Regions from separate parts of the Homo sapiens genome. Here region 1 is linked to region 2. The links come from fine-mapping of genetic effects on gene expression. A gene starts in region 2. The other region holds a variant in brackets. All regions are shown on one strand. Distances are from middle to middle. Region 1 overlaps UBE2O (ubiquitin conjugating enzyme E2 O). Region 2 holds the start of UBE2O (ubiquitin conjugating enzyme E2 O).

Region 1 (2,905 bases), 30 kb after region 2:
CAGTGGCTCGATCATAGCTCATTGTAACCTCAAACACCTGGCTTAAGGGATCCTGCTGCCATTTTTTTATGTAGAGATAGGGTCTTACTCTGTTGCCCAGGCTGGTCTTGAACTCCTGGCCTCAAGCAATCCTCCCACCTTGGCTTCCCAAAGTGCTGGAATTACAGACATGAGCCACCTCACTCAGCCAGAAATTAATTTTAATGTTTTATTTAACTCAGTATATATCCAAGATACCATTTCAGAATGTAACGAATATAAAAAATACTAGTGGGCTGGGCACGGTGGTTCACGCCTGTAATCCCAGCACTTTGGGAGGCTGAGGTGGGCGAATCACGTGAGGTCAGGAGTTCGAGACCAGCCTGGCCAATATGGTGAAACCCTGTCTCTACAAAAATACAAAAAATTAGCAGAGTGTGGTGGCTCACACTTGTAATCCCAGCTACTGGGGAGGCTGAGACAGGAGAATCGCTTGAACCTGGGAGACAGAGGTTGCAGTGAGCCTAGGTTGTGCCATTGCACTCCAGGCTGGGCAACAAAAGTTAAATTCTGTCTCAAAAAAAAAAAAAAAAAAGGCCGGGCGCGGTGGCTCACGCCTGTAATCCCAGCACTTTGGGAGGCCGAGACGGACGGATCACAAGGTCAGGAGATCGAGACCATCCTGGCTAACATGGTGAAACCCCGTCTCTACTAAAAATACAAAAAAATTAGCTGGGCATGGTGGCGGGGGCCTGTAGTCCCAGCTACTCAGGAGGCTGAGGCAGGAGAACGGCGTGAACTTGGGAGGTGGAGCTTGCAGTGAGCCAAGATCGCGCCGCTGCACTAGCACTACAGCCTGGGTGACAGAGCGAGACTCCGTCTCAAAAAAAAAAAAAAAAAAAAAAAGAACCCAACCTGGAAGTAGCTGAGAGCCACCTGGTGTGAAGAGAGGAAGTCTCCTCTCCTGTGTTCTGGTTCCTTTGCGGACACTGTGCCGTAGGCCACCTCTATCAATTATGTCCTGGGCCTGAATCTTCAGGCTCTCCCTTGGCAGCTTCCTGCCTGACCTTATTTTTTATTTATTTATTTATTTATTTATTTATTTATTTTGAGATGGAGTGTCCCTCTGTCACCCAGGCTGGAGTGCAGTGTTGTGATCTCGGCTCACTGCAAGCTCCGCCTCCCAGGTTCAAGCGATTTTCCTGCCTCAGCCCCCCAAGTAGCTGGGACTATAGGTACGTGCCACCATGCCTGGCTAATTTTTTGTATTTTTAGTAGAGACTGGGTTTCACCATGTTAGCCAGGATGGTCTTGATCTTCTGACCTCATGATCCTCCCACCTCGGCCTCCCGAAGTGCTGGGATTACAGGCATGAGCCACCACGCCGGGCCCTCATTTTTATTTTTACTGTATTTATTTTTTAGAGATAGGGTCTTACTCTTGTCACCCAGGCTGGAGTGCATTGGCACAATCAGGGCTCACTGCAGCGTCGAATTCCTGGGCTTAAGCAATCCTCCCACCTCAGCCTCTTGAGTAGCTGGGGCTCCAGGT[G/A]CGTACCACCGTGCCCAGCTTGACCCCATTTTTAATGTCTTGAAAAGAGACCCTTCCTCAGCCCACATCCACCCCCTCACCTACCTCTTCCTCCTTTTCCTGCTCTTCAGCCGTAGTTCCTGAATGAGCTCCATGCTGTGATTCCTGTTTCCTGCATTGCCAGATGTTCTCCAGGCCCCGCCATTGGGGATTCTGCCCACGCCACCCATTGGGACTGCTGAGCCCAGGTCAGCAGGGACACTTCCCCGTGGCACTGGATCTCTCAGCAGCATCAGGCATTGCTAGCCACTCCTTTCTTGACACTTGTTCCCAATTCCCATGGCTTTTCCTTCAGCTGTCTCTAGTGACTCCTCAGAGGCACCCTTCTGTGTTCCAGGCACTTGCTGGGGTGCACTGGTGCCCAGTGCCTGCCCTTGTGTGGTTCACATTCTAACCCCCATGGGGCACACAGACTGCAGGTGTGGGAACAGTAAGTGCTGTGAAGAAAAATAAAGCAGGTGGATAGAGAATGAGGAGGAGCAATTCCAGACAGGGTGGCCAGAGAAGCCCTTCTGAGGAGGTGACATCTGAGCAGAAACTTGGGTGCAGCTATCTGGGGGAACATTTGAGCCATGGCTGTTCCCTGTGGTGGCCACACCTCCCCAAGCCTGGCGTGCCTCGGCTTCATTGCAGATGGAACCTCCGTCCTGCTCGGACACCTGCAGGACTGTCTCGTGTTCCAGATGTTTCATTGGCATCTGGCACAGCGTCTGCCCACCCAGTGGTTATTCAGTTTGCTGAATGGGCGAGGGAACAACTGAATGGATGGTCTACAGCATATGATGAACGGGAGGAAGAGGCCACTGGGTGCCCAGACCTTATGACAGAGCAGGTTGTGTCTGTGTCAAGCCCTTGCTGGAGGAGAGATGGGACTTGAGCTCAGCCTGGGAAAAGCCAGGTTAAAGTGAGCCGCCCTTTGCCCATGCCCTCTCCCCGTGTTGTTCATTTAGGTCGTGCTTCCACACATCATCTTCCCTTTCAGGACCACTCAGGCTGTGAATGAGTGGAGTGACTGAAATAGTTGGGAGCCATTGAGGAAAAGCCGGAGAGAGAGGCCACGAGAACTAGCATTTTGGGGTTACTTAGCACACGTCCCATTACTTATCACACATAGAGGTCTCAAAAACATCACCACAGGCCTGCCTGACCCTCCTGTGGCTTGGTTGTCCCTTAAAGGAAGGACACAGCAGATCCTTTGAGACATCTCCATCTTCCCATTTTCCTCCACCTGGGATTTGTGGTCCTTGAGCACTCTGGATGCAGATCCATTGGAGAGGGGATGGGTCCTCAGATGCAGTCTGGTGGCGTCATCTTGTCTTTTCCAGACTCCTGGCCA
Region 2 (2,905 bases):
CGGTCTTGAACTCCTGACCTCAGGTGATCAGGTGATCCATCTGCTTCTGCCTCCCAAAGTGCTGGGATTACAGGCATGAGCCACCACGCCTGGCCCTAGAGTTACTTTTTATATTTTATTTATTTTTATTTATTTATTTTTTTGAGACAGAGTCTTGCTCTGTTGCCCAGGGTGGAGTGCAGTGGCGCGATCTGGGCTCACTGCAACCTCAGCCTCCCAGGTTCAAGCGATTTGCCTGCCTCAGCCTCCTGAGTAGCTGGGACTACAGCCATGTGCCACCACGCCCAGCTATTTTTTTTTTTTTTCCGTATTTTTAGTAGAGATGGGGTTTCGCCATGTTGGCCAGGATGGTCTCAATCTCTTGACCTCGTGATCCGCCCACCTCAGCCTCCCAAAGTACTGGGATGACAGGTGTGAGCTGCCGCGCCCGGCCTACTTTTTATATTTTAAAATGACAATATGGAGCAGACCATAACAGTTCTGCCAGTCTGGAATTTAGTCTAGGCAGGGAGTTTGGAAATAGTACAACAATGGTTAAGCTTATCGAAGGAGCTAAATGCCAGGCACTGTTCTACTTCACTTAATCCTCCAATTGCCCAATGAGATGAGTATTGCTATTATCATCCCTATTTCACAGATGAGCAAATTAAGATGAAAATAAGTTAATCAGTGTGCCTATTTTTATAGATTAGTAAGTGGCAGTGCCAAAAATTGGAATCCGTGGTCCCCACTCTTAGCTACCTTACTATACTACCTCTTGCCATTCATTCTTGGCTTCAGGGAGCTTTGAATTTATCTGCATGGATTTGTAGCCAAACCACTGGGACCACTGATCCTTTTGTTACCTTTCTCTGGGCCTCCTTCACCAGCTTCTGGGTCAACTTCTGAGGGGTCATGACGTTCGAACTGCTTGGAATTCCTGAATACAGTGCATTATACATATGCTCTACACGTATCTATTATAGCCTTACAAGTTGGAGTTGTTTGTTATCTATTTAATGTGTATTTGTTTTGTCTCCCCAACTAGACTGGAAACACCTAGAGGACAGGGACAGTATCTTTCTCTTTCTGCAATGCTCCCAGTGCCTGGGGGCTAGGCTAGGACGCCAAGGGAGCTCATTAAAAGTTGTTGACAGTCTCTCCACCATCCTGTGCCCCACCCCGACCACTCCCCTCTTCCTCGGTGGCCACTCCACTTCCTCCTCCCGGGTCCCCGCCCCTTCTCGCTCCCTTTAGTTGAATCCTCACTGGTCTCGCCCCTTCTTAGTGGATTCCATCCTGCCCCCGCCCCCCGCGGCATCTTCAGCGTCCCCTAGCGACGAGGCGGTGGCTCCTAGCAACTGCATCCCGGCTCCCTGACGACGGCGCCACGCAGGGACACGTCAGCGCGCTATGGCCCCGCCCCCGGCGCCCGCTGGTCCCGCCTCCCCGCGCCTCGTTCGCCGCCGCTGTCGCCGCCGCCGCCCGAGACTCGCGCAGAGCAGTTATGGCGGATCCCGCAGCCCCCACGCCCGCAGCTCCCGCTCCAGCCCAGGCCCCGGCTCCAGCCCCGGAGGCAGTCCCGGCCCCAGCCGCAGCCCCCGTCCCGGCGCCGGCGCCCGCCTCGGACTCGGCCTCCGGGCCGTCCTCGGACTCCGGCCCAGAAGCCGGCTCGCAGCGCCTGCTGTTTTCTCACGACCTGGTGTCGGGCCGTTACCGTGGCTCCGTGCACTTCGGGCTGGTGCGCCTCATCCACGGCGAGGACTCGGACTCGGAGGGCGAGGAGGAGGGCCGCGGGAGCTCGGGGTGCTCCGAGGCCGGGGGCGCGGGCCACGAGGAGGGCCGGGCCAGCCCCCTGCGCCGCGGCTACGTGCGCGTCCAGTGGTACCCGGAGGGCGTCAAGCAGCATGTGAAGGAGACCAAGGTGCGGCGGGCGGGGGCTGGGCGGCGCGGGCGGCAGGGGGTCGGCGGCCGGGCCGAGGCCAGGGAAGGACGGCGTGCAGGGCCCTGCCCGGAGCGGTGCCACTGCAGTGGCCGACGCGGGAGGACAGCCCCAGTGGAGGGTACACTCCATGCAAAGTCATTGCAGCAGCTCTGGGCGCACACGCCAGCCAGGCACTGCTGGCCCGGGACCGGGCGGGCCCTGGGCTTCCCGACTTGAGGGGACTTCTAAGACATGTTATGCTGTGGTGTCGGCCTCGAGATTTAGAGACGTGGACCGACTCCCGTGGGGACTCAGGTTCTGGGGCGCGTTCGGCGTTACACCAGTGCGGCGTTTTGCTGACCCCCAAGGAGCTCGGTACTGCATTGTGCATCCAGAAATGAAGGCCGTGCCGGGTCCGTGCAGGGAGGGGTTGTGGGCATTCCAAAACAAAGATAGAGGTGAAAATCCCAGCCGAACCCAAGAAGTTCACTAGCTTACAGGCTGCATTATGGTGAAGCCACCCAGCCTCTTTTTGTTTTACCCTGCTGCCTCCTTTTAATTGCTGCAGGGAACTTTGTGAGTAAAATCATTAGCAATCAGAGCCCCGGTATGAATAGTACTTGGGGGGGAGGATTCTGACAGCTGCGACCGGGATTGATGACTCCTAAGTGCATATGGACTCCTTGAAAAAAATAATCCAGAACCCTGGGTAGAGGGGAGTCACCAATTTGGAAACCCGAAGGTTTTTTCTTGACCTGAAGCTGTTAAGCAGACATCTGACTCCCGTATGGTTTTTGGGGTGATGCTAGTGAGTATAGCAGTTTTACAAAACAAAGAGGCTTGTCATCATAAACCCGAAACCTTGAACCCGGGTTGGTTTGGTGGCTTGTTTTCCAGAATGTGAATTCCTATCAGTAATTGACACACACACACACACACACACACCCCCCTGTATCTCACACCCCTTCTTTCTCTCCTACTTCCCCTCCCCTTCAAGAAAAC

Evidence for each region. PIP is the estimated chance that this variant, and not a neighbour inherited with it, causes the effect.
Region 1: its variant is fine-mapped to the expression of UBE2O in whole blood (INTERVAL, PIP 0.95).

The regions. Positions count from the first base shown.
Region 1 is chr17:76,421,877-76,424,781 of GRCh38, reverse strand. The region is part of intron 1 of UBE2O (ubiquitin conjugating enzyme E2 O); the gene reads left to right. Among named protein-coding and RNA genes, the nearest start is that of UBE2O, 30 kb to the left of the region's middle. RefSeq lists enhancers at 1,246-1,745, 1,746-2,247. The variant G/A (reference allele first, on the strand shown) is at 1,531.
Region 2 is chr17:76,451,723-76,454,627 of GRCh38, reverse strand. It overlaps UBE2O (ubiquitin conjugating enzyme E2 O), which reads left to right and starts at 1,476. Exons shown (of 18, transcript NM_022066.4): 1 at 1,476-1,903. The coding sequence starts at 1,487. It also overlaps a transcript of AANAT not described here. RefSeq lists silencers at 1,302-1,470, 1,265-1,804, 1,925-2,124.